3 separate regions of the Homo sapiens genome follow, and all the other regions are linked to region 1. Evidence: fine-mapped expression QTL. A gene starts in region 1. Each other region holds a variant in brackets. All regions are shown on one strand. Distances are from middle to middle.

What was found.
Region 2: its variant is fine-mapped to the expression of NFIL3 in whole blood (GTEx, PIP 0.98).
Region 3: its variant is fine-mapped to the expression of NFIL3 in fibroblasts (GTEx, PIP above 0.99).

The regions. Positions count from the first base shown.
Region 1 is chr9:91,420,023-91,428,201 of GRCh38, forward strand. NFIL3 (nuclear factor, interleukin 3 regulated) reads right to left here and starts at 3,810. Exons shown (of 2, transcript NM_005384.3): 1 at 3,618-3,810. LOC124902209 (a long non-coding RNA gene) reads left to right here and starts at 1,600. Exons shown (of 2, transcript XR_007061661.1): 1 at 1,600-1,682; 2 at 1,997-2,037. LOC105376146 (synapsin-1) reads left to right here and starts at 4,011. Exons shown (of 2, transcript NR_188612.1): 1 at 4,011-6,374; 2 at 6,808-7,588. RefSeq lists silencers at 3,748-4,147, 6,458-6,654.
Region 2 is chr9:91,188,007-91,196,185 of GRCh38, forward strand. It overlaps LOC124902208 (a long non-coding RNA gene), which reads left to right and starts at 5,016. Exons shown (of 2, transcript XR_007061660.1): 1 at 5,016-5,110; 2 at 5,372-8,179. RefSeq lists enhancers at 359-528, 3,825-3,994, 4,961-5,255, 5,674-5,933, 5,837-6,704 and 1 more. The variant A/G (reference allele first, on the strand shown) is at 4,524.
Region 3 is chr9:91,175,717-91,183,895 of GRCh38, forward strand. It overlaps LINC00484 (long intergenic non-protein coding RNA 484), which reads left to right. Exons shown (of 3, transcript NR_135306.1): 3 at 6,753-7,046. Among named protein-coding and RNA genes, the nearest start is that of LINC02937, 17 kb to the left of the region's middle. The variant A/C (reference allele first, on the strand shown) is at 4,267.

The DNA.
Region 1 (8,179 bases):
GTCACAGAATGTGTAAGGGAATTGGAAAAAGCTGAGCTATTAATATGGCAATTGTCACGTCATTCCTGCTACTATAATCGACTCATCTCTCTATTCCTTCAAGCAGCTCCCCAAAACATTAACCCAATGACTTGGGAAGTTTGAGGTTCTGCAATCCTGTCAGGAATTCCCCTCAAACTGAAATTAACATTGAACACGATGGCAAATTAAAAAATATATATATTATTAGAACAAAAAAAGTATCTCAAGAAAGATCTTACAGACTTAATTCCAACACGAATCCTTACTGTTACTGCGAAGAGATTTACAAAGAGAAAAATGAAGGTAAATACACACACACACACACACACACACACACACACACACACAGATTCTGGTTCCTGATCAATAACACAGGAAACATTTATTGAACTCCTCACAACCAACTAAGTCAACAGGTTTTATTCCCTCAGTTTACCCTGGAGAGTGATGGAAATCAGGACAGTGTTGGAAGATAACAAGCTGGGGCCTGGGACCCAGGGTTCTTGTGAGCCCAGGGCCTGCGCTCTTAGGATCTGTACCTCACCGAAACCTGTTCTCTAACTACTGCCTGTAACAGGAGGGAAACTGATTAGGGATAGCGGTGTAGGGTATGATGCCAAAGAAAGCAAGTTTTCGGTCAGTTTTCAACAAAGAGCAGATTGCGTTGATATGCTTCAGGAGAACATCTGTGATGTCTCCATGAATTACTGCATGGGTACAATCTTGGAAGTCTTTATGCGAGGATGAAAGTACTGTAGTTTTACAGTAGGACAGCAGCGTCTATGTGGGCGTTTAGATTTTATTTTGAACTCTGGAGATCAGTGTTCTCTCTCCTCTAGCCTTTGACCACATAAATTAAAGGTTAAAAAAAATCGGCTCAACTCAACTGGCCAAAGTCAAGCTGAGGCCTTCCTTTTAATCACTATCAATACTGGAGCGCCTCCACCCCCAATTTCTGTGGCCGGTGGACGTTTGGAGGTTTTTCTTAAGGTCTTTTTCACTTCAAGAATGGAGACGCGCTTGGTTCCGAAATACAATGAAGACTCTTGGAACAAAGGTGTCTGCAGGTTTCTGAACCTCACCGCAGAACAGGCGCGGAGTCAGGCCCCTGGATTTGCCCTGTTGGAAGGAGGGCCGCGGAGACGCAGGCGCTCCGGGTCGCCCGCGCTGCCCCTGTCTGCCCCGTGCGGGAGCCGGGGTCCCTGGCTCCCTGGCTCCCTGGCTCCCGCGGCCCGGGCGAACCCAGAGCGCACCCGTACGCCGGCCCCGGCCGGTCCCTAGCGCCCGGGCTCCACGGGCCGCGCCCCCACGCGGCGCCTCCCAGAGACCCTCCTCCCTCCGGGTGGGCGGCGCAGCGGGGCCTCGGCGCCGCGAGGACCCCCCGCGCCAGAACAAAGGAATGTGGGGAGGGGGCAGGGAGGAGCTCAGGCCACTGAGCAGCCCCAGTATAACTGCCGTTCGGAGGCGCTTCTCGGTCCCGACCCGAGGTCCCCGCCCGCCACTACCAGACCCGCCCCCAGCCCCGGATTCTCGCAGACCCCACCGGCCCGCAGGAGGGAGCGGCGCACTGGGGGCCGCACGGACTCGCCATTGGAGATCGCGATCGGAAGGTGGCGCCACGCGGCCCCTACAGGCCTGGGACTCCCACCCGAGCTCGCAAAGTAGGTCGGGGTCTGAAGCTGGGGGCCTAGAGCAACTAGCTTCTTGGAAAGCGACTGCAATTATTTGGGGTAATATACTCTGTTCCAGAGACGTCCACCCCCCACCTCCCACAAAAAAAAACCCTGCACTTAATTTAAATGTTACGTTATATATACATCCCATCATATACATATATTCACACATAATCACTATGTAACAGTCCAGGAAGAAATTTAATATTTGGGTAAATTACATATTCACACATCTTCACATAAGTAAAACCAGGGTATCCAGACAAAAAAACAATCTACTAACCTATATCTGTTTCCCATAGGTCATATCTGGTCTGGGGGTAAATAAATACTTCTGACCTCACTTACTGTTGTTATTTACAAAAGCCAAGAACAGAAGATGACACTTGGCCATTCCCTGCTGTTCTCAGAGAACAGCAGTTTCCTAAAGTGTCCTTTAAAAACATAAATGGGAGCCAGCATCCAGCAAATCACCGGGCGCTGCGAAATGCCTTCCTAAAAATACAATCTTATCAAAGGTCTCCGAAGGCGTGGAGTTAAAACTACAGCAAATGGCCTTGAACTTGTATTTGCACACAGCCCTGGAGAAAACACCAGAAATAGCACTGCGAGGCCACAATTGTTAAAATGTGATAGGGCTAAATTTAGAAGAACGTGCGTTTCATTTAGGGCAAAAGACACACATTCGGCAGCATGAGCAAACTCCATGCTTACCCGGTTGTCTACTTTCCTGTTTAAAATATCCTTAAGGAAAAAAAAAAAACTGTTATAGTGACATTCTTAAAGGCTGAGACTGTCCTACTTTCTTTGTAGCAAGATTATAAAATCACGTAATTAGCTCCCTCTCTCTATGCTCACTGCCAGCAAATTCGGCAGTTACATAATGCAACATTTCCAGGAAACTATTATGTGATTTGTCTTGTCGTGTCTGAAAAAGCAATGACAATAAGGTGAGAAAAAGGGCTGATCGAATGGAATGCATTAAAATTAGGAAGGTGGGGAGGTAAACGTCACAATGGTTCGTCCCAGATTTAAAAATAACAGCTGAGAACATTGAAAGGGCGAACCCCAGTAGTACCCAAGATCAGAATTCAATGCGAGCAATTCTTGCTTTTAGGTTTTGTAGTATCGTTTTAAAACCTGTTTATTTGGGACGTAATATAGACGTAAATAACGATCTAATATCCAACGCTGCGCCTCAATTACCAAATCATTGCACACATACGCGCATATTCCCACATCAGCCCGCAATTCTTGCCAACATTTCACCGTGGGCAGATTATGCAATGTATGAAAGGACAAATCCCACAACCTTCCCGAGGGCTTGTAAAACACGCTGACGACAAACAGGGTGGAAAACGTCTGTGCAGACACAGCCCCTGACACAAACAAACGCCGCGCAGGCATTCTCCGAATGCCGTCACCGTTCACGCTACCAACCCTTTTTCTCACCAAGCAAATTAAGACTATTCCCCATTCCTCAACCCCCCATTCCTCTCCCCCCTACGCCGCCAGCCCCAGAGAAGGAACGAGAAAGAAAGACACTAGAGAGGAAAGAGCATCTTCCCGCTCGGAGAGGGCTCAGCCTGCCTGGCGCTCTTCTTTACCAAAACATCAATTTTCCTGAAATCAGGAGACATTATGCAACAGCAGCGGGGGGAGAGCGCAAACCAGCCAGGACTACGTGCCGGCGCGAAGGCGCTGCAATCAAAGCAGCCACCTTAAGGTGGCGAGTCCCATCCTGACAAGGCAGCAAAAGTTTATGTAATGAATGCCCCGCGCGCACTCGCCGCCGCTGGCGAGCCCAGCTTACAGCCCGACCCCGCACACAGCGCGGCCCGCACCCCGCGCCCGCCCGCCCGCCCGCAGCGCGCCCTGGGAGCGGTCGCCGGGCCCCCGGCCGGCGGTGGGCGGAGCGCTTACCGTGTTCCTGCTCTCGGGCCGGCGAGGAGAAAGAAAGGGGCGGCCGGGAGTCGGGCCGCCGGCGCTCGGGGCTCGGGCCGGGCCGGGCCTCCGGGGCCGCGGCGGGAGGCGGGCGGCGGCGAGGGCGCGGCGCGGGAGGCGGGCGGGCGCGCCGGGTCCGCGGGCGCCGTGGCCGCGCGGAGAGATGTGTGTTAGTAGGTCAGTTCCGAGCGCCGCGCTACGTCGCCGCCCGCCAGCCCCGCGTGACTGGCGGCCGCGGCCCCAATCGCCGCGCCCGCACCCGCCCCCGGCCCGCCGCCAATGGCCGCGGCCGGCAGGGGCGGGCCGGGGCGGGCACTCCGCGGCCCCGCCCCGCCTCCCCGCCCTCAGCTCCCCCTCCGCGGCGGCGCCACTACCAGCTCGCGTCCCTCCCCGGCCAGGGCCACCGCCGTCCGAGCGCCCGCGAGGGCTGGCGCCCCATTCCCGGCGCAACGAGTGTTGCGCAACGGCCCACGCGGCCGACACGACCGGAGCGAGCCTGCGGAGGAGCCCGGGAGCCCCCCGTCCCACCGCCCCGTCCGCTCTTGGCTCCCTTCACCCTCCCGGTCGCCGCGGTGGCTCTGCGCTCCCCGCGACCCTCACTTGCTCGCAGAGGCGCTTTTTGTCTTCCTGAGAGCCGCAGCCTGCTGGGCTACCTGTTGCCGACTGAGCACTGCGGGTTGCGGCTACCCGGGCGTGGCCCGGACCTCGGCCTCCCCTTCCCCGCACACTCCCGAGAGGAGCCCTCTACCTTGGGGTGGGCAGGAGGGAAGGCGGGGGGTGGCGGCTGGCAAGCTGCCAACACTCGGGGCGCGCTGCGGCGGGGAAGGGGTTGGCGCGGCCGGGCAGCTGCGCAGGGCTGCGCGGCGGAGGCAGCGATTAAAATGTCCCGGCGCCTCTCCCGAGAGCCGCGACGGCCCGGAGCCGGGAGGGAAAGCTCCACGCACAAACACCGCCCCCTGCACAATTAGGGCGAAGATGACGGCTGCAAAGTTGTTGCGTAACACGACTGGGAAACGAGGCTCGCTGAGGTCCATCTACCCACCCCCGCCACGCGGGTGCGGCGTTCCTCGGAGGATGTGAAGGTCCGCGCTCGGGTGCCCCCGCTGGGACGCCCACTGTCGTTTGGTGCTGGGGCTTGAGACGACCGCGCGGGATCTCTTCCTGTGATTTTGAGCTGATAGCTGCTTAGTGTTATTTCTGCGTCTAACTGGATACGGTAGTCTTCTCTCCCAAATTCCCGGGCTACGGAAGAGACGTAAAAAAATGGAAAAAAGAGCACCTAGCCGCGACTTCTTAAGTCGTCGCGCTAGACTGTCAAGGCACGTGGCACACTCCCTGCGTTTACCGATACACGGATAGTGGTCAGTGCTGGCCTTGGCGAAGGGAGCCATGTTCCCGACAGTGACTCACAGGCTTGCCCAAATACGGAGTGTGGCAGGTGGGCAGGACCTCCACCAGCCAGCTCCCTCCTGGTCTCCTTGAACTACGTGGGGGCTGGGCCGAGTGCCTCCACGACTTTCCACTTCTTTTTGCTCCTTTCGTTTTTAAAAAGCAAAAACCAAAGTAAAGAGAAGAGCAGAGTGAACACCCAGGTACCATCCCTAGTGTCTGCCATGAGCAGCAGATCTATCTACTCGCCAAGATTGTCTTTTCTACCTTTCCCCTTCTTGCACAGTTAATATCATAATAACGCAAGTCATATTTAAAAAATTTTTATCACCTATCAGTTGAGTTTTTGGAAAGCCTTCCAGGGCAGCGTTGTGGTTTTGAACGCACTCTTGTTCGTGATTTATCTGGTAGTACAGCTCTGCTGACAAGGCTCTGAAAACTCAGACGTACAATATGGGCTTAGCGTGTTCCCCGACACCATCTTCCCGGTGCTGACTAATGCAAGAACCACATCCCCTCCACTACACATTTTCCAAACTTGACTACCTTCATGAGAACAAATCCTGATTTTAGTTTATAATTTCCACTTTTCTCATACATATATAATAATTCAAGATGTGGTCTTACTATGTTGTCCAGGTTGGCCTGGAACTCCTGGGCTCAAAGGATCCTCCGGCCACAGCCTCCCTGGTAGTGGAATTACAGGCGCATGCCACTGTGCCTGGCCACTTTTCTCAAATTTACTGATAGTTTCCTTTTTGCCCAAACCTTACAATGCTTATTTGTAGCTTTGAGAACCTCTCTTAGATGAAATCAAAATCATATCCATATTAGTTGCCTTTTTGGGGTCAGAAATGCAGCTATTGTCTAGAAATCCAGGGCTGTCCTGCATAATCTACCCTCCCCTTCACGTGTTCTGACCTTGTTCTGCATTTTGAATAATTTCATGGAATTTCAAAGCCGTTGTAGTAAATGTCTTTCTTTAAAGACAACTCGACCTTCAAGACAGGTAAAGAACGTGCCTGGAGCCACCCCAGGCAGTGATGCTGGAGGAGTTCTCTCAACCTGGAAACTTATTCTTTATGCTGAATTTTGAAATCGAATGCTCCTATATTTACTTGGAGTATTTTAGATTGTGTATGTATTATATCTGTGCATCATTCATTGTTACCATCTAACTTGGAAATCAGAGGAAGTGTGAAAGGTATCTGAGATACCAGCTTAGAAAACAACTCTTTAGCTCCTCCTGGTGATTAGGACACCACTAAACAACAGGATGAAGGATCTGTCCCCAGGGCCGAAGTGATGATGTATCTAATATTATATCCTAGAACATTCACAGAGTAGGTAAGTATTTGCAGATTAACTCGAGTAAATGGAGCATAAAAACCTAAGATATTTGAAACAAATTAACCAGGGTGGGGAGGCTTCTAGGAAGACATCAGCATGTGCCTGATGGTGGAGCTGGGCTGTAAGGTTCTCAGGAGGAGGAGGAAGGGGTTCTTGCTCTCAGCAACCTCTCAGTGCTAGGGGTGGATTGAGGGCAGGGGCAAGGGAGGAGGTGCCTGGACAGGGATGAGAACTACCAGCAGAAGACAATCAACCACATTCTAATTCATTTTATTATACTGCCAACATGGTTTCTGACTAAGCAAATATAAGAGCTATAGCTTGAGAACAGAATGACTAAAACAGTGACTTCTCCTTACTAAAATGGGAATTAATAGGAATTTGTAATTTAGTAACAACTTAATTTAATATAGTAATAATTTTTCTACAGCTGCAGAATGTCTTGAGCTGGAACATCCCCAAGAGGCCATATATATATCCCAGGGATTTTACAGTGGACCTCACTAGGCCGGAGTAACTGTAAAGTCAGATGGATAATGAGAATTCAGGACGTTAGCCACACGTGGACTGTGGCAAAAAGAAAGTGACCCACTGAAGAAGACTGTTTTTCAGCTCTCTCATCAATTGCTGTTTCCAGGAGCCCACAGCTCCAATTACTCAAAAGAACGTTGACTTTTTTTTTTTTGGTAAAATATCCTGATTTTCAGGTTAGGCAAGCAATTCATTAAAAAATAAAAGACTGCACAGCCCACAGCTCCAATTATTCAAAAGAAAGTTGACTTTCTTTTTTTTGGTAAAATATCCTGATTTTCAGTTTAGGCAAGCAATTCATTAAAAAATAAAAGACTGCAGGACTTACCTACCCAGAGGCTGGACAGTCTGAGTCCTCTGAGTTCTACAGAGATGTCCTGGGAACAGGGGGTGGAGACGGGGGACTCAGTGGCTAAAAAGCAGGCTGCCTACCTGGCAACCAAATTGGGCAGCTCTACCCTATCTGTTTTGTGCATTGGACTTATGGATTTCTTTGTAGAAAAAACTTCGATAACTAAAAGCCCTTTGGTGACCTCCTGTCTGGTCTGGTGGCCGGCAGCCTGCATCAGGGCTCCTGTGTGCCAGGACCATTTTCTTTCCACTGTAGTATGTTTATGGACCACCTTGTGTCTTTTTATTAAACTCCAGGAACAGAAGTTCAGTTTCTGGGAATCCATAGCATACCGTTTTTGTTGTTGTTGTTGTTGTTGTTGTTGTTTTTGTTTTTGAGACAGGGTCTTGCTCTCTTGCCCACACTGGAGGGCAGTGGAGTGATCACGGCTCACTGCAGCCTTGACCCCCCCAGGCTCAAGCAAACCTCCAACCTCAGCCTTCCAAGTAGCTGGGATTACAGGTGCACACTACCATGCCTGGCTAATTTTTTAATTTTTTTTTTGTTAGAGTCAGTGTCTCTCTATGTTGCCCAGGCTGGTCTCAAACTCCTGGGCTCAAGCAATCCTCCCACCTTGGCCTCCCAAAGTGCTGGAATTACAGGTGTGAGTCACAGCACCAGACCTGTTTTGTTTTCAAGTGGAGGCTTTAAGATGTGAGCTAGCATGGTAGCCTTAGTGAGGTTCTCCTCCCCACGCCCATCAGTGTGTGCTTTTTGCTGGGATTTTGGCTTTGATGCAATGAGTCATTGACTGTTGAGGCAGAAACTTCCTGGAATGATATTTCTTTCCACCACTCATGCACTTTTATTTCTGCTATTCATGCCATTTTTAATCTTTCACCTCTGTCTTCCTCTTCCGCTTTGCCTTTTCTTGTAGTTT
Region 2 (8,179 bases), 230 kb before region 1:
ATGAGCCATTTCTGGGCTAAAATCCATATAGTTTTGTCCTTTCCCTCCCTAAGCTGTGAAGGAAGTGGGAGCAGTAGACAAAGCTGGGCATCCACCCAGGGCTGGGCAGGTCTGGGGCAGAGGCCTGCATCTCACGCTGAGACAGCATGACTGGACAACCTCAACCCAGTCTGGAATATGGTTGGGCTTAAGGAATCCCAGAAAGGGTCCTCAGCAGCATGACCATATTAGTTTTCTACTGCAACAGTCTTAGTGGCTTCAAATGAACAATTCTTCACAGAACTGTTGTGGGGAGAGGGCTCAATTATCCCTAGACTTCTTACCAGCAATATTTAATGCCAGGAGAAAAGATCCTCAGGATCATCAGAGAGGAAAAAATCGTGCCCAAGAATCTGACACCCAGGTAAGTCATTAATTACTCTAGTCAAAGGCAATAGACACGTATTTTCAAAATTGCCAGGATTCAAGAAATACAGAACATTTTAGGAAAACAAAAGTAAAATAAAATTGCCTAATTAATCAAGAACATAGAAATGGAAAAGCTATGATATGAAGTGAATGAGATTGGATTAATGTAAATTTAGAACACTGAGAATTATGGGAATTACGGTTACAGAAATGAAGGGGAATGTTAATGCTGAAATGAAAATTGATACAAAATGACAAGAGCTTTCTGGCTTTCCTAGCTCTTCTTGTCTAATTAAAATGAATACATGTATATTGTTGTGGTAAGCAGAACACTGGCCCCCAAATATATCCATGCTTGTATTAGTCTGTTTTGCTTGCTATAAAGAAATACCTGAGGCTGGGTAATTTATAAAGAAAACAGGGTTATTTGGCTCATAGTTCTGCAGGCTGTACCGGAAGCATGGCACCAGCATCTGCTCAACTTCTGGTGAGGCCTCAGGAAGCTTACAATCATGGTGGAAGGCAAAGGGGAGGCGGGTGTGTCATATGGCAAGAGAGAGAACAAGAGAGAGAGCAGGGATGTCCCAGACTCTTTCAAACAACTCCATCTCACCTGAACTAACAGAGCGAGAACTCACTTCTTACTGTGGGGAGGGCACCAAGTCCCTTGAGAGGAGTCTGCCCCCATGACCCAAACACCTCCCACGAGGCCCTACCTCCAACCTTGGGAATCACATTTCAACATGGATGTGGAGGGGACACACATCAGCACCATAGCAATGCCCTAATCCCTGGACCCTGTGAATGTTAGGTTGCGTGGCACGGGGGAGTCAAGGTGGCCGATGGAATTCTGGTTGCTAATCAGCTGACCCTGAAGTGGGGAGAGAATCCTGGATCACCCAGGTGTGTTCAGTGTAACCACAGGGTCCTCAGCTGTGGATGAGGAGGCAGGGGTGTCTGGTGTGGTGTGGGAAGAACTCGACCTCCTGCTGCTACTTTGAGCTGGAGGTGAGGACCACGAGACAGGGTGGCCGAAGGCAGCCAGAGAGATGAGGGGAGAATTCTCCTACAGCCTCTGCAAGGAACACAGCCCTGCCAACACCGTCACATTCATCAGTGAGAACCACTTACTTCTAAACTACAGAACTCTCAATGATACATGCATCTGTGTTGTTTGAAATCACTAAGTTTGTAGTAATTTGTTACAGCAGCAATAGAAAATGAATACAATTGTAGAAAAATTAGAATAGGTGCATGTACTATATTTATTACATGAAAATATGATTATATTGTGCTTACTGAACTGTAACCTGCTTTTTCAATATAACAGCACATAGTAAACTTTTTCCTATGATAATTATATGGACACCCCTACAACATGATTCTCAATTGCTGCATAGAGTGCATGAACTTTAATGCATTTATCCCATCTTTCCCATTGACGAAGGCTTCCCCTAACTCCAAGATTAACATTCTCTGTGTACATACTGGGTTATGGCAAATTCCTAGAATTTAAATTGTTTTGTCAAAACCTAGATACTTTCTTGTAATGTATGGCGCTTGACATATAGCAGAATTGACACATAACCCTTCCTGCATAGGACCAGGGGCTGCAGCCTGGGATCCTCCCTGACGCACCATCATTATCATCCCCATTCATTTCTTTGTACGGATCTCAGCATGATTGTATCTTCTGAGGCAGGTTCTTTTCCCACGCCTCTCTCCATTGCCAGGCACTTTCTCTCCAGAACCACATCACTGAGGCAGGTAGCAGTCCCCAGTCCCAGCACAGGTGGTAAGCTCTCTGGACCACAGCAAGCAGCCCAAGGATCAGCCTGCCCCGTCCATGCCAAGACAGTCATTATTTTAAGAGTTCAAAGACCATCAAAGCTTCATTGGCCTGTTCCATTTAATTTGTGAAGCATTATGTCCCTTTTTCCCCCTTTTTTCTTTTTTGAGACAAGGTCTCGCTGTGTCACCCAGACTGGAAGGCAATGGTGCCATCATATCTCACTGAAGTCTCAACCTCCTGGGTTCAAATGATCCTCCCGCCTCAACCTCCCAAGTAGCTAGGACTGCAGGCATGAGCCACCATGCCCAGTCACTGTGTATGTGCTTTTTATTCCTTTTAAAAATTTCATTTTCTCTAAAGATGATGCATTTAGGAACTGGACTTATTGATGGCATCTTTTAAAATTATTTTGAAATATTCAAAAATCTTTGATTCACTGATGTGCTTTTGGTCTGAAGAAGGGGCTGTGAGATTCATCCTGCTAGGTCAGAAAGACACATGGCATTTCCCCACTGTCTTCCTCAGTGTCACCCGCTGGAAGCAAGGGTGTCCAGACCACACTGCAGCTTCCTCGGGAACCTGGGGCTTTTCTTGGCAATATCTAGTGATGTCTGCCTTTAAAAAGAATATGCATGGGCATAGGTTGCGGGGCAGGGGTGGGGGCTTCAGTCCCAACTCAGCCCTTGAGAAACGTAATGAACATAATTCCCCCCACCCCCCAGCCCCTTTTACAAACAGGTCACATTAAGTTAATTTACCAGCTAACACAAGACCATTTGATGGCCGGGCAGTTTCCCATGGGACTGAAAAGGCAGGAGCTGCCAACACTTTCTCTAGGCCCCTCAGTGCCCCAGTGACATCTGCCCAGACCTCGCAGGCACCTCGGCCTTGTCCTTTTTGATGACTGCAGAGAGTTGGTGGTTCCTAGAGCCCAAGGTGGAGGTAACCCTCTGAGACACTGCCTGGCTCTGGAGCCCCTCCCAGCCCCTGGGCAGCTCTCTTCCTCCTTTCTGTCCTCAGATATGTCACCATCCCCAACCCAGGAGAAATCACTCTTCTCCACATTGTGTGTGTGTGTGTGTGTGTGTGTGTGTGTGTGTGTGTGTGTACGCGCGCATGCGTGCACATCTGTGCTTCCTGGGAGCATAGGAAGTAGGAACCAGGATTTGTTTCCATTCTTTTGAGACAGCATTCCCATGGAGGTTAAAATACAGTAAATGCTGAATGGAGAAAGTTTCTAATCCCCAGAATCGCAAATCCTATTGGTGGGCAAATTGTTTTAAAAGAGCTGTTTGGAGTTGAGGCGCACCTGCAAAATTAAACACACCAGGGTGAGAAAGGCTTTCTGGGGGCGGATCTGCAGGACTTGATTTTGCTGAGTTTAATGCCACTCATTTCACTTTCTGTTGGCCAGAGCCCGTTTCCCCTGCTTGAAGGCACAGAACCTTGCTGGGAGCCAGGCAAGCTCTCTGGACGGGATGGGCAGCCCCAGGGCCAGCCATCCCAAGTCTAGGGCTTGCTGGGGCCTAGACTTTTGACCTCCAAAGGGTACGGAGTCTGGGGACCACTCTGCACACCATCCTCCATCCAGAGAGAGGGGCCATTTCCATCCTCATTCGGTTTCCCATATTCAGGGGAACTCCTCTCCAAGAAGAAACAAGGGCTCAGTTCCATTTCTGACTTCTCTCTAGGTCAGCACGTGCGGTCACTTCACAGAAAAATGGTGTGGATGTGCCAGACTGGGGACAAAGGCCCTCTGTTGTCCCCATTACCTGTGGTTTCCTGCCACAAAGGCTACACCAAGTACCTTATAAAGAAGGGCTGAGCGCTTCATGGATTTACTCAAAACCCAGCGCTCTGGGCTACTATGACCCCAGCCACCAACAGGTGTTGAGACTCCCCTGAGGCCCCGCCAAAACTGGCTGGGGTTTCCTCTCCACCTCAGTGCCACCCCTGTCTCCAAGCCCATACTCCCAGGCATCTCTCAATCACTACCTCTACAAGACCCCAGGGTCTGGGTAATGGGGGCTGGCAGAGCCTGGACTCATTCCTGCAATGACGTCGGATACCAGCGGCACCCATTCCCTCTCCAAAGCTCATGTCCACAAGGGCAAACGATAGCATCCCCCTCCACCCCGGCAGTAAGCAGCAGCGAGTCTCACCAATTTGAGAGTCTCTAGAACAACAGATGGTAATTTGTTGACACAAAGATTTAAGGGGACTCAATTACAGTCCCACTGAAAAAGCTCTCTCTAAAATAAGAAAGTATACAGATTCCTCAGCTCGCAGAAATTGCTGACAGCTTTGTTTTCAACCCTCCAGG[A/G]GTAAAAAGAAGCTGACAACTTATTTTTGCAGGTTATGCTCATTCAAGTCTATTTTTAGATCTTGTTCCTAAATAAGTACACCAGAATAGCATTCAGTTTGAAAATCACCATCTGTTCAGAGCAATGAGCTTGGCCTCGCTGGGCTGGGTATACCTGGCCCATGGCAAGGTGGCAGTCCCCTTGTGGACTGAACCGAGGGGGCAGTTTCAGGTCTCCAAGTGGTGTTTGAAGAATGCACTAAAAACAGTCACAGGCAGTTGGCATTTTAAATGCCCATTAAACAACTATTAATATATTTTATTTATAAGCTGAGAACCACACAAAAAATGCCCTTGGCTTTTTAAAAAGAAGTTCAAATAATCCCTTGTATTTAAATAGATTTCTTATAAAAAGGCGATCCAGCCTAAGTTTGGTAGTTAAGATAAAAATTAACCTATGGAAAAGAAAGCCAGCTCAGAACGCTATAAAAAGGCCCCTTCCCCCCCCCCCTTTCTTCCGGTGTATGGTGGCCCTCCCCTCCCTCTGCAGCCACTTGGTAGTGACTCACGCTTTTCTTTGGAAATGCAGTTGCTGCGTGAAACACAACGTGAGAATGGGAATCTGACATATGAGTAACCCGGCCGAGAGGCACCTCTTGGAAATGACACTGGGCCTTGGCTAGAATTACGCACAGGCCCTGGGAGGGCTGCGGCTCGTAGGCCCGTAGGGGGCAGGGTGAGGGCGGAGGTCCTGGCGCCCCCAGGCCTGACCCGCCCGCACCGCTGGGCTATTTTTAGCGTCCACTAAACTTAGCCGACTCCACCCTCTTGAATAACCCACATCTTAAAATGCTATTTTTCTCCAACAGGTCAAAAGAATTCTGCGAGTTAGAGCGCAGATTAAGTTGCTAGCGACGGGCATTGAAGGTTTTAGAACCGAGAAAATGAGCCGGTGGCGGGGAGCGCGTCCTCAGCGGCCAGGCCCGGCACGGGGCTCGGGCACTCGGGGACACACGGTGGTCGTCGCTGTGTCTCAGCAGGACCCTGTGCGCTGGAGAGCTTGGGGCCGCGAGTCGCGCAGCAAGGAGGCTTCTGGCTTCTCTATTTTTAGCCTCTGAACGTTTTCCAAAATAATTACCAAAAGGAAATACACACGCACACATGGACCTAACACACAAAACGTCCTTCTGCGGGAAGCCAGCACTAGGAAAGAAAAAAAAAAAAATCCGAAGTGAAATTATGACACAGGGTTTTGTAACCCGCGGTGGCGCGCTTCTGAAACCCGAGCCCGGCAGCGGCTTCTTATCTGCACCGCGTTCCAGGAAGCAGCCGGCGTTTCGGCCGCGCAAGGGCAGCCGCCGCACGTAGGCAGCGTCCCCCAGCCCGGGACCCGCAGGAATGCGAGGGGCAAGACAGATCGCCGGAGGAGCAGGGGTCAGAAGTCAGTGTTTAACCACTCACTGGCTTTCGGTGAAGCCAGAATGTTAGCAGCGAGTCGCGGTCGGGGGCCTTGGGGTTGCACACGCTTGCTCCAAGCACCGAGGCTCAGCTGAGCACATGCACAACCCTCTCGATGCAGCGGAAAGTCGTGTGGCTTAGGGCCGCACCCCGAATTTCGCCGCACCCGCCGCTGTGCCATTTACAACCCCCCACCCCGCCACTGCTGTCACGTAGCAATCAAGAGTAAAGGTTATCACAAAGTCTGTTCTTCGAAGGAAAGAGTTGGAATCAAGGACTTCGGACGGGAGGAAGTTGGTAAGTTACCGCTTCCTCCCTCCTGTTTTCCTCTCCTTGTTTAACTTCTCACAAGAACATGTGGCAGCGCTGCAGGTTAACTCATCTTACATAACTTCGGGGCCGTGTCAACTGTTCAGAAGAAAGAAAAACAAGTATTCTCTTCTGTAGAAGTTGTATTTAGAAACAGGCTCTGTTGTTTAGGACAAGTTCACTTGTGTTGCCTGATCACTTGCAGCAGAAAATCTTAGAACTGCTCCTCAAGCAACAAAAAGTAGGGGCTCCCATTTCCATCTTTCTTTCTTTTCTTTTTCTTTCTCTCTCTCTCCTTCCCTCCCTCCCTCCTTCCTCTCTCTCTCTTTCTTTCTTTCTGATGGAGGCTTGCTCTGTCGCCCAGCTGCAGTGCAGTAGCACGATCTCAGCTCACTGCAACCTCCGCCTCCCGGGTTCAAGCGATTCCCCTGCCTTAGCCTCCCGAGTAGCTGGGACTACAGGTGCGCACCACCACGCCCAGCTAATTTTTTGTATGTTAGTAGAGATGGGGTTTCACTATGTTGGCCAGGATGGTCTCGATCTCCTAACTGCGTGATCCGCCTGCCTCGGCCTCCCAAAGTGCTGGGATTACAGGTGTGAGCCACTGTGCCCAGCCGGGCTCCCATTTTTCTGAATATGAACTTCAAAATAGTTTGAGGAGCCCAACATGAGAGTAACTGGACAATTGTCTTCCTCTGAGAAAACAAAATGACAAACAACCAACATGAATCAAATGATGACTTGGTATTTCATTAAACACAACTCTTACAGCACCAGGAAGACAGTAGCCCATTTTGTGCCAAGCGTATTTACTCAGTTGGTGGCAATAGGGGTTTGGAGAATCTTGCATTGTGGTTTGCTGGGGTCCACAAGCCACACATCGGGTGTCTGGCCATCCTGCATGTCCAAAGGTGAACAAAGAAATGCACTAATAACCTAGAGACACAGGGACAAGAACAAGCCCAGTAATACCCATGTAGCCGTCTGCTAGAATTGAAAGCCAGGTATGGTGGGCTTCTACCCCACCCCAATCACGACGTCCTAATGAGGGCTACCAACTACCAATTACCACACCTCCCCCCTGGCCTAGGGCCCTCATCCTCCCCAAACATCTCTGAGCAGAGTGGCAATTAAGAGCACCCTGCTCTGTGGCTGGGAGCCTGGGAGCTGCCAGGGGCCATATCCTCCTACCACAGGGGAAGCTGGATAGCAGAGGAGATGGGGAGATGGGAGAAGAAAGACTGAGTTCCCAGAGTCCTGAGACAGCAGTCCAGTGGCTCCCTGGCTGGGCACAGGGAGTCCCTTTTCCTGACTCGTTCAGTTCAAGCTGGGTCTGTTACTTGCCTCCAGAAGAGTTTTGATACAGGTGTTGGCACCTTCTCAATGCCCTGTCTCCATGGTTGACCCACTTCCCTGACAGTGCCTTGAGCTCCTCCCCTGATCTGGGCTGGTCCAGGCCCTTGCTGGGGGACGCCACGTGCTAGGGTAGACCAGAAGTCCCTTCTTGGAAGCCCTACTTCCTGTGGTTCTTAGATGCCATGTGGCTGACATCTGGAGAGAGGGTGGACTATGGACTCCCTCCCCACATGAAATCTATGAAAGGCCAAATAAGGTTTAAGAGGTCTGTTCTCAGCCCCTGACAACCTCCAGGACTCTCTAAGACTGCACGAACAAAAATGAAGTAGTGCATGGACCAATGAGGTGATAAGACCCCAGCGGAAAAATTTTCTCCAATATTCCTCTAGGAAAGAGTCCTAGCAGCAAGAACATTGGTCACGAGATTGGCCAAGGGATCAATCAACTCTCTAGTCCCTTCCCGTGATGTGAAATGCGGTGTGGGCTGGAGCCCTTGTATGCTTTGCCCCCAGTAGGCGGTTGCCTCCCTCACTGGGCACTGAGGCCATAGGCCG
Region 3 (8,179 bases), 240 kb before region 1:
GGAAGAAATGGCTCATTTAAGCCAATGAGAACCAAAATCAGCTCCCAACTTAATAATGTTAAACTCCATTCCACGATGTATTTTTAAGAGCTTGCCAAATTTGGTAATAAATTAATTTTTAAAAGGAAAGAAAAGCTAAATCTAGACAAAGAAACACAGAAAACCAAATTATCGGTTTGGAAGATATTCAAATATATTAACTAGGACCCTGGGAAAACCATGTATGTTGGGAAGGGATTTGTAGGTGAAGAAGGATGTAGAAAAATTCAAGAAGAGCCTGGTGATGTGGCTCACACCTGCAATTCCAGCACTTTGGGAGGCTAAAGCGGGAGGATCACTTGAGGTTGGGAGTTTGAGACCAGCCTGGCCAACATGGTGAAACTCTTGTCTCTACTAAAAATACAAAAATTAGCCAGGTGTGGTGACTCATGCCTGTAATCCCAGCTACTCGGGAGGCTGAGGCATAAGAATCGCTTGAATTCGGGAGGTGGAGGTTGCAGTGAGCCAGGAGGCAGAGGCTGCAGTGAGGCAAGATCGCACCACTGCACTCCAGCATGGGCAACAGACTGAGGCTTTGTCTCAAAAAAAGAAAAGAAAAATACAAGAAGGAAAATGGGCTTCTGCCATTTTCGGTGGCATGTTGTACAGAATTTGACAAGCATGTCCAGGTGAAATCTTTGAAGAAGGCACTGCAGTTTCTGTGTTGGCGGACGTCCTCATTTTTGTTTCCACCCTGTAGCTAAGTGGCCATCCTGCTCAGAATATCTGTGACAGTTGGATTAGGACATATTTAGTGATTAGGAATCAGCATGTTACATGGTGTATAAAAGTCAGGCCCAAGAAAGACTCTGACCACCTGAACATCGGCAAGCTCACGTGACGCCCAAGAGTCAAGACTGCGGAGCGGTGGACAGAAGAACTGCATCAGGAGCCCCTAAAAGGCTGGCTCACAGGGGCTGTAGAAGAGCCACCATGACAGTGTTCTGGCTGAAGATCAGGCTGCATGGTCTGACAAAGGACTTTCTGGCTGGCAGTTTGACAGCACCTGTGGTTTATTTAAAAAAATAATAATAATAACAGCCGGGTGTGGTGCCTCACACCTGTAATCCCAGCACTTTGGGAGGCCGAGGCAGATGGATCACCTGAGGTCAGGAGTTCGAGACCAGCCTGGCCAACATAGTGAAACCCCGTCTCTACAAAAATACAAAAATCAGCCAGGCGTGGTGGCGCACACCTGTAATCCCAGGTACTTGGGAGGCTGAGGCAGGAGAATTGCTTGAACCTGGGAGGTGGAGGTTGCAGTGAGCCAAGATTCCATCACTGCACTCCAGCCTGGGCGACAGAGGGGAGACTCTGTCTGTCAAACAAAAAGAACAATAAGAAGGTTGTTTATGGCTGAAATAGGAACACACAGAGAATCTAGGGTATGGGGCTGCCAGCTCTCTCCCAGTAGAGTCCGTGGACCAGGTCACTTGTGAGCTGCTGGTTTCTGCCCCATGATGAGATAACAGAGTGCAAGGAAGTGTACGTGTTCAGAACTCTCACGGCAATTTGACAGGACTGTGGCATCAAAGTGTGTGCCTGTGTTTCAGTAATCCATGTCCTCTGTGTTTTACAAAAGCACTGGCCCAAGACAGATTGGGGAAAAACTACAAAAAATTGCTCCTTCCCTACAGGCTGTTCCAGGACAGCAGCTCTGGAGTGTGGCTTGGCGGTCATTTCTGGGGGAAGCTGCAGACAATTAGCCACAGATGATACTTAGGGTCTCAGACCCCACAGTTGATGCTTAAAATAGATGTTAATGACTTCAGAGATGTCCCTAAGCTTATCTGATTCATACCCTCTCATTTCCAATGTGTTTTCTGAGGGAAAAAGAAGGGTTTTCGGTCAGTGTGCCAGGAGATCCAAAATCCAGGGCATCCCTGGGTAGCCTGACCTGCTGGGACAATGAAAAGGTGGAGAGAGGACTCCCAGGGACGGCAATGAGGAAACAGGGCTGCCACGGCCCACAGGCCTGGGTGTGATCTTGCTGCAGAGCCAGGAAGCTCCTTGCAGCGGTGAATGTGGTGGCGGTGCTGGCCGGGCACCGTGGCTGTGCCTGGCAGGCCTGCTGAGGGCACAGGGATTCATCGCGCTTGGCTCAGAAGCTTCGTTTTTCTGAGACAGCTCCCAGCTTCACTCAAACGTGGTTACCTACAGATGCAAACTGGAAACGATGCACTGTTTGTTCCCTTGCAATCTCTACGGTGAGCAGGCAGGAGCCCCAGCCAGAGTCCTGTGGTCACACACCCACTGGTGGTCAGGTAAATTTTCTGTTTCCCAGAAGGTTTTATTTTACAGAGTTAACAGACTGTGGCCTGCTTCCATTGCTCTGAAACACGCCAACTCCAGTTTCCCCACCTTTGTGAGGACGATCAAAAACCCAGAGAACGGCAGTGTTAAGATTTGATTTCATGATAAGCCCATCTTGTGGCAAGTTGAGTCTGGCTCTGGAAGGTGTGTTTGCCAGGAAACAAGCTGTGTATTATTTCTGTGGTTTGGCAAGGGAAACTCTGAGCTGGATGGATTTGGGAACCAGGGGAAACATAGCTCAGGCCATGAGAAGTCTGGATGAACAGGAAAACAGAGGAGGGGTCCCAGGTATTGCACAGCTCAGAGAGACAACGCCCCAGCGCCAGAACTCAGCAGCCAGCAGGGGTGTGGGCAGCACTGGGGTGTGGCTGGAAACTTCGGACACCACCCACACGGCCCACAGTGCCAAGCCCTGCTGCCTGGCCCTGCCCACAGAACCCCCCCATCCTTCTCAGCTGTGGGCTAAACACCCCCAGGATGGAAATGGCTGGGCTGTCCAGGGTGTGGAGTGAGCAGAGGCGCACAGGCAGCCTGCCTATGTGGGCCTGTGTTGGTGGGGCCCCACGTGTGGACATGCCCCGCCTGACACCAGGACTTGCCCGTGAGCCTCCCTCATCCCCAGCAGGCCTTGCTGGGACTCCTGTCTGGGGCTCAGTCCCGCTCTGGGGACATTTTAGGAGAGGCAGGTGAGTTCCTGCTGCTCCCAGGGGCCAGTCCCAGGGGACCTCATCTGTGACAGAGGATACCTCATTTATGACAGAAGACGAATTGTTGGGCACAGCCCAAGGCCTACGGAGAGCAAGGTAGGGTTGTGTCAGAGTTGCCCTGAAACCAACATCTTGTAGGTAAAGTTACTGAGGTTTGTCAAGTTGCACAGCATGGAGTAAGCCGCAGAGTGGAGGACAGGAGGTCACTCTGTGGTTCCCGGGCATCTCATACCACCTGGTGCCATCTGGAAACAAGTGTATTCACCTGCAGTGGGGAGACCCCGCCTCCCCTGCCTCAGAGCAGCCAGCCCCTTTGTCTGCCACCTGGAGGTGTCACAGGCCTTCAGAGGAGAGGGCTGTGGGGCTGCAGGGAGTCATCAGGGTGGACAAAGAGGTGCACTTGTGCAGATGTGGGCCTCATGGAGCCGAGAAGGGAAAGACTTCCCTGCAGATGACCATACAATGAGCAGGCAAGAAAGAGGACCGGAAGGCGTGAGCTGAACCCGCAGCTGGCTGAGGAGCCAACACACACGTTTCCGAGGGATCCAGGCTTAGGCTGGTGGCTCTTACGATCCCAACATCGGCTCCATTCGCCCCGGTCTGTTCATTCTACTTCCACCGAGATCATGTGCATCCCATCAGGGCATCCTCCCTTACCTTCTATGCCGCCAGTGCCCCACAGCACCCCCATGCTGTGTGCCCAAGCTCTGCACGGTTAGGTGGGGACACCCTTGCAACGCACAAGGTCGGCCTTCCCATCCCACCATTGCTGCCTGCCCTGTGTCCCTGGCTCCTGCCAACCTGGTGGGTTTGCAATTCCCCACAGGGACCCACACTTCCTGGAGAGAGTAGCCACACTCGGACCTGCCCAGTGCAGAGCCGGGCCAGGCTGGAAACAGGTCGGGGCTGACTCACTGGCCCAGAGTGGGCCACAGGTGCTGGGCACTGCTCTCTCTGCCTGCAAATCCTATCTTTTACACCCCTGCCCAGAGAAACATTCTGTGTCTCTCCACGTACCAGGATGACAGCGGCCCCCAAATATGTTCATATCCTAATCCCCAGAACCCGTGGGTGTGACCTTACATGGCAAACAGGACTCTGCAGATGTGATGAAGACCAGAATTATTTGGGGGAGGAGGGCAATGTAGTCACAAGGGTCCTCCTGAGACAGTCCGAGCAGAAGAGAGCAGGAGGTGACTCACTGATG[A/C]ACACAGACTGCAGCGATGCGCTTTGAAGACAGAGGAAGGAGACAAGAGCCAAGGAATGCAGGTGGCCCCCAGAAGCAGAAAGACAGCAAAGAAATGGATTCTCCCCTAGAGCCTCCAGAAAGAACCAGCCCTGCCCACCTTTGACTTTAACCCAGTCAGATTGGTTTTAGACTTCTAGCATCCAGAACAGTAAGAGAACAAAGCTGTGCTGTTCTAAGCCACCGAGTCAGTGGTCACTTGTTACTCAAACATCACCCATCAGCACCCTGGGGAAGTGCGCCTGGCTGTCCGAATGAGCAGCCCTCTCTCCAGGACAGCCCTGCACCCGTGTTGGGCCTGTGTCTGAAACTCCCTAGCTGCACAGGCCTGGTGCCAGCTCCATGAGGCTGGGGTGCCACTGTGAGTGGCTCCATCACTCAGTCAGCCCTCGCCACAGGCCTGCAAATGGCCACTGCATGCTGGTGCTGTGGACATCCATGGCTTGGTTCCATTTCAGGGAAAAGCCCCTGAGGACTTGGGGAATGCTTTCCTCCCTCAGCCACGCTATTCAGCGACCCCACTGGTGACCTGTCCAGGCTGAGCCCCCCCAAACACGCTGGCCCAGTGACTGCTGCCACCCCCCTTGGCCGGCTGCTTGGTCCAGAGGCAAGAGTCTCGGCCAAGGACAAGGCATCACAGTCCTTTCCTGGTATATTTCAAATAGGAACTGGGAACCAAGGGCCAGTCCCATTAACTTGAGTAAGAGGCAGACACCAGCCGGCACAGAGTGGGTCCCACTGCCTGGGCCCTTCCTGCACCTCTGCTCGCTGCTCTGCCCCAGCCCGGGCTCAGCAGGGACCGGCCTGGAGACCAGCCCCAGAGCGGGACCTCAGTGCATGGGTGCCGGGGAACAGTGGGGGCCTGACAGGGCTCCTCAGACCTTCCCGTGGAGGAAGGCAGGAAGGTGGGCTTCCCAGGAGCCGTGGGCAGGCAGGCACCCTTGGGCTTCCTTTTTCCCATCTGTGTAAGGAACTGCTCTAGGGCCATGAGACACTCTCTGCTGATCCTGTCCCATGGTCCTAGGGGCACTGTCTGCCCACCCACCCTGAGTGGCCTTGGTCACAGCTGCAGTGGGACACCAAGTGGGTCCATAGCCATTATGGACTCCCACACGCAGCGGCCACCATATGCTGTGGGGTCCTCATCTCAGGTGCCCACATTCAGATAAGATTTGGGATAGACCATAAATTCCACAAGGACAGGGATTTTTAAAAATTTGTGTTTACTGATGCCACTCAAAAGCCTATAATCAGTATAAGCCTGACACAGACAGGTGCTCAGGAAACAATTTTTGAATGAATGACTAGATGCTGAATTATTTGCTTGGTAGGATGAGGATGGGCATTTCCAACATATTGCAACTGGAAACAGTGTTCCACGTTTAGAACTCCTCTTCGCCTCATGAGCTAATTTGGCACATTACTGGTCTGAGTGAGCTGTGGGTTGTCTGTACAGTTTTTGTTTGTAGCAAAGCTATAAAACAAACTGTGCAGGCCAAGAATAGATTGACATTGTTCACGATGGTGCTTACAGGCTGCGCAAGATGTATTAGAAGTCTTTGCATAAATAATAATTACAGAAATCCAAATTAATGAGAGAGCATTTCTCAATGATCCGATTGGTAGAGTCCAGCATCCACGTGCACTCCTGACCAGGACGTAGAGAGAGGCCCTCCAGGAGGTGTGCAAAGTGGCGTGGATTTGGGACAGCGATTTGACAGTATCTGAGAAAGTTAAAACTCTGCATCCCCAACACACAGCAAGCCCTGCAGCGGTAAGTCTGGGTCACAGTGAAGGCTCAGGACAACCCCAACCATCCAGGGAGGAACAGCTAATAAGAATGGCACCCTTGCTGGAAAGTGTATGGTTGCTGACTGGAAGAAATATCCATGACATGTTGTGATGTGTGTGCAGCTGCAGACCTCTACGTAGAGTAAGTACGTTATTGTTTGTGGAAAAAAGTATGTGTGTGTTCACAGGTATGTACATGTTTGTGTGTGTGTGCAAATGAGCACAAGCATTGACTTGTTGGAATGTGGGTGCATGGTGCGTGTGTTCCTGTTTGTGTCTATGCATGTGTGTGTGTGCATGTGTCTTTTGTAAGTACAGGAAGAAGTCAGGAGTCGTCATGGTAGTGAGGATAGCAGTACTGTGTCCTATCAGGGCCAGACACGGCACCTTTCAGATACTGTAGTCATGCACTTAATCCTCAACTGGGTTACCACTGTTATCTCCAATTCACAGATCAGGAAACTGAGGCAAGCGACCAACCTAAGTTGAATTCTGAAGTCAGGCAACTTGTGTCCAAAGTCCATGACCAGAATCTTTCTGTTTTGCCGCCATGCTCAAAATAGGAAAGGCAAGGTGAAGCGTGCTGTTAAACATTGTTAACTGGTGGGCACTATGGGTGTTTTTTACTTTTTTCTTTTTGTATTTTTATCTTTCAGGCGATTACTTTAAAACATGAAAGAAATTGCACCTTTTCCTTAAGGGCAAGATGGTGCTGTGGGCTTTCCTCTCTCCTGATGAGATGATGCAAATGGACTCCATAGAGAAACGCTGCCCGTGTAACAATGCAGTTACGCAACCCGGTGCATGACACATGAATTGCAGCGCACCTGAGATCCTGATGAAATCCTGGGAGCCTGGAGCTGTCAAACATGGTTTTAAAAAATAAAGGGAATACACCCAGCCCACACCCTGACTTTACAACCTTTAATTAATTAGAGGAAAGAAAGAGAGATTTGTCTGGTTTCATGACTTCAACTTTCCACCTGGAATATGAAGCTCCTGCTCTTCCCACCTCCTTTTCTTCTCTCTCTCTCTCTCAGGTTTTTAAATTTCTATTTCCAGTTCTGCCACCAAAAATAGATTGCAAATATATTCTGCATAATTCCGAGGCTACACTATAAATGTTGGAGTGCTACTACTTGTATAATAGTCACAAATGAACGCACGAGTGGGCACAGACCGCCACTCTGCCTCCCTCCTGCTCCTGCACCAGCCAATAGTGTCTGAAGTCAGACCCATCCCATCTTCCTGTCCAGCTGTTTAGTCTCAAATTGTACATTTATTTCATTAATAGATCAGTCTAAGATGTTCATCTCATGTAACAAAGGGGCATCTTTTTTTCTTGGGAGCCTGGCTGGTTTGTTGGTGGAAAGGCAGGGCTCAGGGGCCGTCGATGTTTAACTTAAGCCTCCTGTACTTTCACATTCTGGGACCCAGCACCTTCTTGTCTATAGTTAGCTTTTTGAAAAGTGCTATTTGATTACAATTTAAGGCTGGGCGCCGTGGCTCACGCCTGTAATCCCAGCACTTTGGGAGGCCAAGGCAGGCGGATCACCTGAGGTAGGGAATTCGAGACCAACCTGACCAATATGGAGAAACCCCCATCTCTACTAAAAGTACAAAATTAACCGGGCATAGTGGTGCATGCCTGTGATTCCAGCTACTTGGGAGGCTGAGGCACAAGAATCGCTTGAACTCGGGAGGCGGAGATTGCGGTGAGCCGAGATCACACCATTGCACTCCAGCCTGGGCAACAAGAGCAAAACTCCGTCTCAGAAAAAAAAAAAAATTAAACACACTTTCATTCACTGAATCAACAACTCTTACCAGTCATGGTCAATAGCTGTATCATGACAATAACTTAACTTGGGGAGTTTAAAAAATACCCACACCTGGATCCTACCCCAGGACTGGTTGAAGTCACCTGGGTGGGGCTCTGGCCGGGCGATTTTCAGGTGATTGTAATATGCAATCAGGGTTGAGTCCTTCTGCACATGGAGTTCCTTGAGCAAACCTCCTGACCCTCGAAACTGCCTCTGACAGGCTGTTTCCTCCACCCCTGCACCATGAGTATTATCTAATG